3 linked regions of the Homo sapiens genome follow. The protein of the gene in region 2 interacts with the protein of the main gene of each other region in a pairwise test. Each region holds a gene or a part of one and is shown on either strand. Other genes may lie near its edges.

Region 1 (3,647 bases), on a different chromosome or scaffold from region 2:
GGGATTACAGGTGCCCATCACCACACCCAGCTAATTTTTTTGTATGTTTAGTAGAGATAGGGTTTCACCATGTTAGACAGGCTGGTCTCAACCTACTGAGCTCAGGCAATCTGCCCGCCTCAGCCTCCCAAAGTGCTAGGATTACAGGCATGAGCCACCGCGCCTGGCCCTGATATTAATTTTCTAAGGCTTTCATAATGCTTGGGAATAGGGGTTCTAGAATCAGCCTGGGTTCTGCCACTTACTAGCCATGTGACTTCAGGCAAGTCACTCTGCCCCTCAGAGCAACTGGCTGGTTTTCTTACGAACACATTAACTCATTTCATCCTTACAAAAACCCTGTGAGATAGGTATCATTACACCCATTTTATAGTTAAGAAAACTGAGACACAGAGCAGTTACTGACTCGCCCATAGTCACATGGCTAGGAAAGTGGGGGAGAACATTTCACTCCAGGCAGTCTGGCTTCGGAGTCTGTGCTCAATTACATGCCAAGCAGCCTCCCATATGTAAAGCACTCAGAACAGTGCCTGGTACATGGTGTTTACTGGTGTCCTTATTATTAGGGAGAGGGGATAAGGGTCTAGACTTGGGGAATGGCACAAAAAAAGAAGGAAAACCCCAAGCAGCAGCCTGTTCTCATGTCATAAGAACTCTAACTCAAGCCACAACCTGAAACAACCAGTCTGGCCAGGGCCAACTGGTCTATAAAGTTGTTTTATAGACCCCTACAAGAAAGGATGTCAGGGGAAGGGAGATCTGGAAGGTCCAGCCCTCACCTCCCCAGCAGCAGGGCAGACCTGCTGGCCAGCATGTCTCATTTCCACCCAGGAGGCAGGCAGGGAGCCTGAAGAGGCAGGTGAGGATACCTCTGCCAGTTTAGGGAAGAGAAATGATTCTGGGAGTGTCTCAACAGCCGGAGCATGGGCCTCTCAGGTGTCTGGGTCTTGTCAGGCAGGCAGACACCAAAGCTGTGGGCCCTGATCGCATTCCATCCATGTCAGGGAACTCTGCTTGTCTGTTCTCATGGTGCACCCTCTCTATCCACACCCAGCAAAGTGATGCTCAGTCTGGGCACTTCTCTTTCAATGCCTCTATAGCCAGGGCAAAGCTGCCCTGTGCAGTAGGTACCACCTACTGAGCCTGGTACCTACCACCTTTCCCATGAATGCTGAACTTGGCCAGCATGCAGAGAGTACTGGTTTCTAGAAACTAGGGAATTCTAGCTTTCCTCAAGGAGGGTAGAAGGGCCGTGAGAACAATTTGGTAAAAGTCCTAATTCCAATATCTAACCTGCTCTTCAGAGTCTAAGAACGGGTATCCCAATGAGGAGAGAAGAGAGGCCTTCCTGTGGCCTGTACCACTGCAATGCTACCTAACTGCCAGGCCAAGAATCTCCAAAGGTAGCCTGGGCAGAGCAAGGCTGTCCAGAGCTATACGGGCCCTGTTCTTGGGAATGCTCCTCGGCTTGGGGCACAGACTACGGGAGTTCTCACTTCTGAAAGCCCCCTACCTTCCAGTTAGCAGCCAGACCCCAAGGGAGACCCCTGCTCAGATCAACAGCCCAACCTCCTGGGATGCCATGTCTCCGAGACTCCCCAGTACATCTTGGGCCCAGGAAGCCTCACCTGCTGCAAAAGGCATTTTGTATGGGCAGCCGCCACAGGTAGTGCCAGCGTGGGTAACAGACAGGGGCAACACTCCGCAGATGCTGTAGCCATTCACTCCAGTGTCCTCGCTAGAGCAGTAGCGAGAGGAGCCCCAGGGAGGGTGCTGGAAAGGGGTGCCTGAGGGCACTGAGCTCGGAGCTAAGAGGAGCCCCTCCTCGTGAGGTGCAGCCACTGGGGACAGCTTGCCCTCAGGAAGCATGGGGCAGGGCGAGTAGCCCCCACACTGCAGCCCCTCTTGGCCACAGTACAGGTAGAAGCTGCCTAGTGCAGTGAGCTCAGGCCCAACACACAGGCCATTGTAGTCGGCGGGGTTGCCAGGCATCGGCAGCGGCGACAGCTGAGGTGTGGGGAAAGAGGGCTGATGCAGTTCCTGCTTAGGGGCAGGTGACTCCTCGCCTGGGCGCCCAGGCTCCGGCTTCAGAGCCGCCTGTCCACCCATCAGCAGGGGCAGGTGAGGGCGCAGCCCCAAAGGGCTCTCCAGAGCCTTGCTCAGGGGCTGATGAGATGGCTGGACGGATGGCCCACAAGGAGTTGCAGATGGCCATGGTTCATCAGGGCAGCCTTGCCAGCCAGGTGGGCCTGCAGCCTCCCCAGAGCTGGCCCCCTGCCAAGCCTTGGGATAGTTCTTGCCATTGACCTTGGGCCACTTTGGCCTCGGGGCCTTGGGTGCTGGGGGCTCAGTGGAGCGCCCATCTACTTCTGCATGGGCACGAGGCAGCCGCAGGGGTAGCTCCCGCTCCTGGCTCAGTTTTAGGAAAGCAGCTGCGTTCAGGCTAGCCAGTCTCTTGGGAGCTGGGTCTCCATCTCGGCGGGGACCTTCATCGGGTGCTGGCTCTGGAGACAGGTCCCGACTTCCTCCTCCAAGGTCCCCCAGCCGGGGCCGCTTCTTGGAGGAGGACCAGCCCCCAGTAGCACGATCACGGTCACGGCTGCGGTGGGGATCCCCTGCTCGACTGCGGCGGGTGCCTGCCAGGCTGCTGGTGTCCTCTCGCTCCAGCAGCAGGTTATTGAGAGCTTCAGCATTGAGGGAGGCCAGGCGCCGCTTGCGGGGCTGGGCAAGGCCAGGGTCTTCACTGGATGGGGCCGGGCTGGGGGGCTTGGGCAGGTCAGGCGGTAGCTCATCAGCCTCATCTGCACTCCGGGGACCGGCCACATTCTCCAGGCGAGTCAGCAGCACTTTGCAGGCCTTGGGCTTCTCAGGAACCAATGGGCGCTTACGAAGTGGGTAATTCTTGCGGCGCCCTGTGAGGTGACCTGGGCTCTCGGGCATGCCTGGCTCCACACCCTCAACCCCCTGCTCCATGTTGCTGTCTTCCATCTGCAGGGGCTCTCGGCGGCCAGTGAGGCCCGAACTCAGCATGGGAAGGGACTTTCTCCGAGTGTGTGTCATGGAGTACTTCCAACCTGCAGGACAGAAGGTGGGCAATGAGAGAAGCCCTCTCTGGCCTGCTCCTGCCTGCTTTCTCTCCCACTGCAGCCTACCCAGCCCCAGGTGCAGTGATCCTGGCCTACAACTACCCTGTCTCCAGTATGGATTTTCCTGGGACTCCCTTTCCAGAGTGTGAAGGGGCAGTGGAATCAAGCTACCAGCAGCTGTGCAAGGACTGGTTCCTCCTCTTTCCTTTTAGCCTAGGGTATCTCTGAACTAAGCCCCTGAAGAGCCTAGGGAGCAAGGCAGACCCCAGGGACAGGGGATAGGAGGAGCTGGTGGCAAAGCTCTTTGTTCTCTCCCCCTGTCCTTCTCTCACTAGATATTCATCACAGGATAGGAAGAGGCTCTGAAGACAGAGCCTCCCAAGATGGGGGACTGGGTGGTAGAAGTCCATTTATTCTTTCTTCTTTTTTTCTTTTTTTGAGAGACGGAGTCTCGCTGGAGTGCATTGGTGAGATCTTGGCTCACTGCAAGCTCCGCCTCCCAGGTTCACGCCATTCTCCTGCCTCAGCCTCTCGGGTAGCTGGGACTACAGGTGCCCGCCA
Region 2 (4,424 bases):
TACCCAGAAGACAACAGGTGGCTTGTGTTCTGCTCAGTTCTAGGCCAGAGCAACGGGTGTCTTCAAAGGTTTCCACTCACAAAAGATCCAATTCAGATGGATGCCTTCAGCTCCCTCTCCCATCCAAAAGGGAGATTAGACTCCAGATTCTCTTTCCTGAATATCTTTTCTCCTGTGAGTTGTATTGCTTGGATTGAGAGAACTGTCTCTGGGCAAAGACAGTTCAGCAACAGTGGCACAGATGAAAATATAAGTGCTTCCGGAACCAAAACGATACTCCTCACCATGTTGTAACCCCACCTATAGGGTCTTCTGATAGCATGCCCAGCGTCAAAGCCAGCAGACACCATGCATAAACACCCAGACTTACCCAAAAGAGACACACACGGATGACTCATCATGCCTCAGAACTACTCCAAGGGATCAGCCTGGCAGGTAAGGCCCCATCTGTTGGATTGCAATAATTCAGGTGAACAGAAGCAGACCTGTGTGCACCTCCCAGGAACATGTCCCCCACATTTTGGGGGATGTACTGAACTGGGCCAGATACAGGGTTCAACTGAATATATACTGCCACGATCTGGATCCACCCTAGCCAGGCCAGGATGCAACCCTTGAGCCAAGCCCTGGGCCACGCTGAGCCTGGCCTTCATGTTCTTTCCACCTGACAGGCCAGGAGGCGGAAGTGAAGGCCCCACGTGGGCCCATCCCGTCCCGTCCCAAAGCAGCAAACAGGCTGCTACTCGAAGTAGCAGAATCCTGAAGGGCCTAAAGAGAGGGTGTCTCACCAGGAAAGTCTGTCTCTCTTGGGGTATTTGTGTCTGTGTGTGCCTTTTTCTGTATGTGTGGGTGGGAAGGCATCTGTTTCCTCTCACTTTGCCTGGGCACCTGTCTCTTTCTGTTTGGGTTTCTATCTTATTTCCTTTCTATAAAAAGCCAGAAGGTAGACCAGAAGGGGATTTTGTAGTGTTTGTTGTACTTAATTGAGGAAAGCTTTGTGTTCCCATTTCTCCAAGAAGATTCATGGCATCTTACTAAAAATCGAAATAAATTTTAAGTATAGCTTCCTTTAGGTAACATCGCCTGGATACAAAGGTCGAAATTGGGGGTGGGGTGGGATGCTATGCAAATTGCAAAGAGCCCAGGGCCATCCAAGGAGCCCAGGCAGGTTTGGGTAAGGGCTGGATCACTGGGTGAGAAAGTTGGTGTGGAGTTCACTAAGAACTCATGTGGGAGTTTCGCAGGTTTGGGAGAGACCAAGGAGTCTGCATTTTTCAACAAGCACCCCAGGAGATTATGATGCAGAGCTGCACCTCCTTAACACTGGGCCTGTCTAGAATCTGGAGGTTCCCAGATTCTCCAACTCTCAGAATCTCTGTTACTGACAGGATTCCTGCCCAGGAACCTGCTGAAATGGGAGCCCACTATCTCTGAGTCTGTGCTGATGGTTAGAAGAGAATTCACAAGTTCTGGTAGATTTCCAAGGGGTCCCTCACAGACAGAAGGCTGCAAATTACTGCTCAATAGGGTTCTATATATAAAACTCAGTGTCTGACCCAGTTCAGTACATCCCCCTAGTAACATTTTGTGGGGATGTACTGAACTGGGCCAGATACTGTGCAAGTGGCTTCTACTTGAAGGTCCAATGTTGCAGGGTTGGGGGAAGGTGAGGGTGGGGAGGGGCTGAGGCAGCATTAGTACCTAGGGGAGGTGCTGTTCCAGCAATCCCATCTGAAATTCTCTTGTAAAGGAAAAATGTCGGGCTGAGGTTGAAGAGGAAATGTTTCATTGACTAAGGAGACTGGAGGGGGCCGCATGCCCAGCTAGGTCAAGGCTGGCTGGAGGGCTTCAGTTGGAACAAGGTGGCAGGGTGGGACCTCTGGGAAGTGGGCCAGGAATGGGGGCAGGGGGTTGTTTGAAAGGGACCATGGACTTTGGGCGGCAGGCGAGTGGGGGGTGTGTGTGGAAAAGATATATAATTAATCACCCAAATATAGACTGGAGGAGCCAGCAAAGGAGTTTAAGGGGGCGGGGGCACTGAAGTGGGAGATGGCGGCCCCCAGTAGGGCGACAGAAAAAGACTGGTTCAGACAGAGGGCCTTGAGCTCGGCTCACCGCCCCCTTTCCCCTGCCTCTCCACAGCTCTCTCTCTAGGCTACCTACCGGCCCCCATTCTCCCCACCAAGCTGAGGCTTAACCGCCCCCCCCCACTCCCACCCACTCAAAAGGAAAGGAGGGACTCCCCAGCGGGAACTGTTCCCACCTGGCCCACCCTCCCAGCTCCCAGACTGCGGCTCAGTCCCTCCCCTAGACCAGGGAAAAGTCCTTTAACCCCCACCCCTACAATGCCCCCTCCAGATCGGGCTCCTAGGAGCTAGGGGCAGGGGTCCTTTCTCTCCGCCCCTGAGCGGTTCCCATCTCCTAGCGTCCCCCAAAGAGCAGAGCAGGCCTCTACACTTTAGCGATTCCCACCCGGGATCGCCGCCCCCCGCCCGCCTCGGGAAGGCCTTCGGGCCTCTTCGTACTCGTCATCCGGGACCCGTTCCCTGCTCTGGCCCGCCCAAGGCCGAGCAGCTCTCCAACTGCCCAGAGACGCCCCCTCCCTCCACCGTGCACTCTTCTGCGGCCCGCACACTCGCTCCAGCCCCGCACACAGTCCTGCACCCCCTGCACATCCTCTCGCGGCCCTGCACGCTCACTCAGGTCCACACGTCCTCCTGCCGCCCCCACGATCACCTCCGCCCTGCGGCCCCTCCAGCGCCCCCCGCACATCCTCCCGCGGCCCGCACACTCACCCAGGCCCGGCGGCGGCCGACGCGCGGCCCTCGGTGGAGCGGCGCTGGCGCGGCCCAGGCAGGCCTGGCGTGGCAGGAAGCGCCACGGAGCCGCCCGTGCCCAGCCGAGCTAACAGCCCCGCGGCGCGTTTCCGGAGCCGTGAGCGCCGCCGGGGGTTCTGAGGGAGCGAGGCCCCGCCCCGGCCCCAGTCTCGTCCCCGATTGGCCCGGGAAGGGGGCGTGGCGGGAAGGGGGCGGGGTTTGGGCGGGGGCGGACTGGGCAGGCAAGTCTGATCAGCCTGCGGGGGAGCGGCGCGCGCGGGCTGGACGCTTGGGTGGAGGTGGGGAGGAGTGGAATGAGCGTGCGAATGAATGAATGAACGAGCGAACAAATCGACCAGCAGACGAAGGAAGGAACGAAGGAATGGAAGGGACCTCTCCCCCTTGGGCATCTTCAAGATGGTGGTGGGGGGAGTGAAGGGTCGGGAACTGAGGGCGAAGACTGGAAAGCCAGTATTCTGTATGAATGGAATCAGATCGTATGTACTATTGTGTGTCTGGATTCTTTCATTCAACGTGATGTTTTCAAGATTTATCTATGTTGTTGAATGTGCTATCGCTGAGTAGTATGCTATTGTTTGGATATATCAGAGTTGGTTTGTTCATTCACCAGGTTATGATCTGGGCTGTTTCCAGTTTGGGCGATTATAAATAAAGCTACTATGAATATTCATGTACACATCTTTGTGTGGACATATGCTTTCATTTTTCTTGGGCAAATACCTAAGAGATGAATTGCCACATCACAGGATAGTTTTATGTTTTATAAGAAACTGCCAGAATGTATTCCAAAGTGGTTGTGCAATTTACATTCCCACCAGAAATGTATGCGAGCTCCTTTTCTTTCCCATCCTCATCAACATTTGAGGTTGTCAGCCTTTATTTTTAGCCATTTGAAAGGGTGGGAAGTGGCATCTCATTGTTATTTCAATTATCATCTCCCTGATGACTAATTATGTTGAGTATGCTTTTATGTGCTCACTGGCCATTTCTATATCTTTCTTTGTAAAGTGTCTGTTCAAGTAGTTTGCCCAATGTTATGTGCAGTATATATATATGTATATATATGTGTGTGTGTATATATAGAGAGAGAGACAAAAGAGAAAGCTAGCCCATTATGTGCAATGTGTGTGTATATATGTGTGTGTGTATGTATGTATATATATATACACACACATGTAGTTCCTGAGAAATTTTATGTTTTCAACTTTCATTTTAGATTTAGGGGGTACATGTGCAGGTTTGTTGCCTGGGTATAGTGTGTGATGTTGAGGTTTGGGGTACGAATGACCCTGTCATCCAAGTACTGAACATAGTACACAATAGTTAGTTTTTAAACCCTTGACCCCTCCTTCCCTGACCCCTCTTGTAGTTCCCATTGTTTGTTGTTCCCATCTTTATGCGCACGAGTACCCGATGTTTAGCTCCCACTTATAAATGAGAATGTGTGGCATTTGGTTTTATGTTCCTGCATTAATTCACTTAGGATAACAGCCTCTAGCTGCATCCATGTTGCTGCAAAGGACATGATTTCATTCTTTTTTTATGGCTGCATAGCATTCTGTGGTGAATGCCTACCACATTTTCTTT
Region 3 (3,647 bases), on a different chromosome or scaffold from region 2:
AGGTTCTGGTCTCTCAGATCTACTGGTCAGTTTGATCAGTGGATTTATCTCACACTGTCCTCAGTGTTGTCAGCCACAAAATAACTGCTTTGGACTTGATAGCTCTTGCTAATCATTCTCTACTTATTTTTGATTTTAATAAGTCCAAGTGCCAGTTTATGAATTTACACTGAGACATATACTTGAGTTTGGAATTCTGCCTCTGAGCAGATCTGTTTGGGAGGCCTCTAATGCTAGTCACTGAGGATAAGGGGCATCTGTAGATGGATCGTGTGTTCAGGGTGACCCTAGGCTGCACCTGCAGGAGAGTATAAAATGGATAAATGTATTCATTCTGGAAGCGGGGTAACCTTCCTTACCAGTTCCGCCAGGACCTGTCGAATAGTTTGAGTGCACTGCTTTAGCTCCAGTAGCTCTGTACCTGTAATATAGGAATCCCTGGATACCAGGATCCAGAGGTAGCCGTCAGAACATCAGGGAACCCTCTAAACTTTGTGCCTGTGGTCCCAGCTACTGGGAAGGCTGAGCAAGGAGGATCACTTGAACTCAGGAGTTCAAGGCAAGCCTGGGCAACATAGTGAGACCCTGTCTTCTTCAAAAAAGAAAAAAAGACTGGAAACTTTGCATACAGGTGTGCACATTCTTCCAACTTTCGAAGGAATTCAAAGCCCCTGAAAAATGAAGGGAAATGAAAAATGCGGTAAGATGCAGTGAGAGACTTTGTTCATCTCATTTGATTAGTTTCCCTCAAAATGAACTTTCATTTTTGGCATTGCATAGCCTAGAAAAGGCATCACTGCTGTGTCCCGAGGTGTGAGTGTCTTTGATTTTTACTGGATAAATGCCAGACTTTTCTAAAGAGGGAGCAGTTCACATTCATGCCAGTGTTTGAGGTTCTCCACATCCTCATGGCCACTTTTAATTTTAGCCATTCTGATGCTTGTCCAGTGGTGTCTCATTGTGGTTTTAATTTGTGCTTTTTTATTACAAATGGGATCAAACACCTTTTCATGTTTATTTTTCTCTTTTGTGAAGTGCCTGTTTAAAACTTCTTTGTTTTATAGCTTTTATTTATTTATTTATTTATTTATTTATTTATTTATTTATTTTGAGACAGAGTCTTGCACTGTTACCCAGGCTGGAGTGCAGTGGCGTGATCTTGGCTCACTGTAAGCTCTGCCTCCTGGGTTCACGCCATTCTCCTGCCTCAGCCTCCAGAGTAGCTGGGACTACAGGCAGCCGCCACCATGCCCGGCTCATTTTTTGTATTTTTTTTTTTTTTTTTTTTTGAGACAGAGTCTCACTCTGTCACCCAGGCTGGAGTGCAGTGGCACGATCTCAGTTCACTCAGTTCACCTCCGCCTCCCGGGTTCAAGCAATTCTCCTGCCTCAGCCTATTGAGTAGCTGGGACTACAGGCACGCACCACCATGCCAGGCTAATTTTTTATATTTTTAGTAGAGATGGGGTTTCACCATGTTGCCCAGGCTGTTCTTGAACTCCTGACCTCAGGTGATCCACTCGCCTTGGCCTCCCAAAGTGCTGGGATTATAAGCATGAGCCGCTGCACCTGGCTGTTACATAGCTTTTTTTTATGCAACTTTCGTATATAAACTTTTTTCATCATAAATAGGACTTTTCACTTTAGTACCTAGCTCATCCCAGTAGCTTTTCCAGAACTGCTGTCTTCACCACAAAGCTCCCTACGTTTTCCCAATGCAAACCTGAGTGTTTTTAGCATTTTAACTTTCCTCACAGAGAAGACATCGTGGAGCGGATAAATAGATTTGCAGGCATTTCTGTGTCTTCTCCAGTGCTGTCTGGAATAATTTTCTCCACCACTTCTTTCAAGTTATTTGTCTGCATCTCTCTTTTTTTTTTTTTTTGAGATGGAGTCTCGCTCTGTTGCCCAAGCTGGAGTACAGTGGTGCGATCTTGGCTCACTGCCAGCTCCGCCTCCTGGGTTCACACCATTCTCCTGCCTCAGCCTCCAGAGTAGCTGGGACTACAGGTGCCCGCCACCACACCCGGCTAATTTTTTGTATTTTTAGTAGAGACGGGGTTTCACCATGTTAGCCAGGATGGTCTCGATCTCCTGACCTCGTGATCCGCCCGCCTCGGCCTCCCAAAGTGCTGGGATTATAGGTGTGAGCCACCGCGCCCGGCCTTGGGTCATGATTTCCATCATCTTAGACCTGTTGGTGCTGAGGTTTTCTTTAACCATTGGTAGTCTAGACATCAACATGAGCTTCAATCATGGTCTGCCTTTTTTTTTTTTTTTTTTTTTTTTTTTTTTGAGACGGTTTCTCACTGTCACTCAGGCTAGAATGCAGTAGCGTGATCTCAGCTCACTGCAGCCTCTGCCTCCTGGGTAGCTGGGACTATAGGCATGCACCACCACGCCCAGCTAATTTTTGTATTTTTTGTAGAGACAGGATTTTGCCATGTTGTCCAGGCTGGTCTCGAACTCCTGACCTCAAGTGATCCACCCGGGTGGTCTGCCATTTTTAAATCACACAACACATTTTGTCATGGGTAAGACCCACGCATGGAAGCTAGGCAGTTTTTGCCCTGAACATCTTGAACAGTCAGCTTGAGTTTTCTGCAAGTCAGCAAGCCTTCAAACATAACCCTTGAGGCCATCAGATACAGTTTTGGTTCCTTGAGTCCTATAAACTTTTTAAATCGTTGAAAAAATTGAACTAGAACAAAGCAAACCATTTGTTGTTTTCTTTTTCCCCCCTGAGACAGAGTCTCGCTCTGTCGCCCACGCTGGAGTGCAGTGGCACAGTCTTGGCTCACTGCAACCTCCATCTCCAGGGTGCCAGCGATTCCCATGTCTCAGCCTCCTGAGTAGCTGGGATTACAGGTACACACCACCACGGCCAGCTAATTTTTGTATTTTTAGGAGAGACGGTTTTGCCATGTTGACCAGGCTGGTCTTGAACTCCTGGCCTCAAGTGATATACCTGACTCAGCCTCCCAAAGTGCTAGGATTACAGACGTGAGCCACCATGTCCGGCCTCCTTGGTTGCTTTTTAACAGCAAATAATCTTTTTTTTTTTTCCAAGTTGTGTGCTTTCTCCAAATTTGTTTTTTTTCTTCTTCTTCTTCTTTTTTTTTCCCTTGAAACAGGGTCTCACTTTGTTACCCAGGCTGGAGTGCAGTGGTGCCATCACGGCTCACTGCAGCCTGTACCTTCTGGGCTCAATTGAGCTTCCTGCCTCAGCCTCCTAAGTAGCTGGGACTATAGGGGTATGTCACCATCCCTGGCTGATTTTTTATATTTTTTTGGAGAGACAAGGTCTTACCGTATTGCCCAGGGTGGTCTCAAACTCCTGGGCTCAAGTGATCCTCCCACCTTGGTTTCCCAAAGTGCTGGGATTGTAGTTGTGAGCCACTGAGCCTGACCTTGGGTCACTTTTCATGAGCATTTTCAGTATGCCAGTCTCTGCTCTGGCTAGAAGCAATGCAGTGGTAGAAAAGAGACTGGCAACTCTCTTTAAGGAATCGAGATTCTTTAAGGGGAAGGTTATTGAAAATGTTACTTAGGCTGTTTTTCTTAAATTTCCAAAGATTGTCTCTTAGTAAGGTTGATTTTTCTGGAATCTTTTTTTGGTCTGTTTCTATAATGTATGAATAAGTCAC

Evidence for each region.
Region 1: the proteins of ZNF275 (region 2) and BAHD1 interact in binary tests that used the Homo sapiens proteins (3 or more experiments, as listed by UniProt).
Region 3: the proteins of ZNF275 (region 2) and RNF4 interact in binary tests that used the Homo sapiens proteins (3 or more experiments, as listed by UniProt).

What each region holds. Positions count from the first base shown.
Region 1 is NC_000015.10:40,457,878-40,461,524, reverse strand, and holds part of BAHD1 (bromo adjacent homology domain-containing 1 protein), read right to left. Parts: intron 3,075-3,647; coding exon of another isoform or gene 3,061-3,074; coding exon 1,629-3,060; intron 1-1,628.
Region 2 is NC_000023.11:153,332,657-153,337,080, reverse strand, and holds the start of ZNF275 (zinc finger protein 275), read right to left. Parts: upstream 2,929-4,424; 5' UTR 2,796-2,928; intron 1,620-2,795; exon of another isoform or gene 1,544-1,619; intron 448-1,543; 5' UTR 402-447; coding exon 371-401; intron 1-370. UniProt on the Homo sapiens protein: May be involved in transcriptional regulation.
Region 3 is NC_000004.12:2,503,459-2,507,105, forward strand, and holds part of RNF4 (E3 ubiquitin-protein ligase RNF4), read left to right. Parts: intron 1-3,647. UniProt on the Homo sapiens protein: E3 ubiquitin-protein ligase which binds polysumoylated chains covalently attached to proteins and mediates 'Lys-6'-, 'Lys-11'-, 'Lys-48'- and 'Lys-63'-linked polyubiquitination of those substrates and their subsequent targeting to the proteasome for degradation.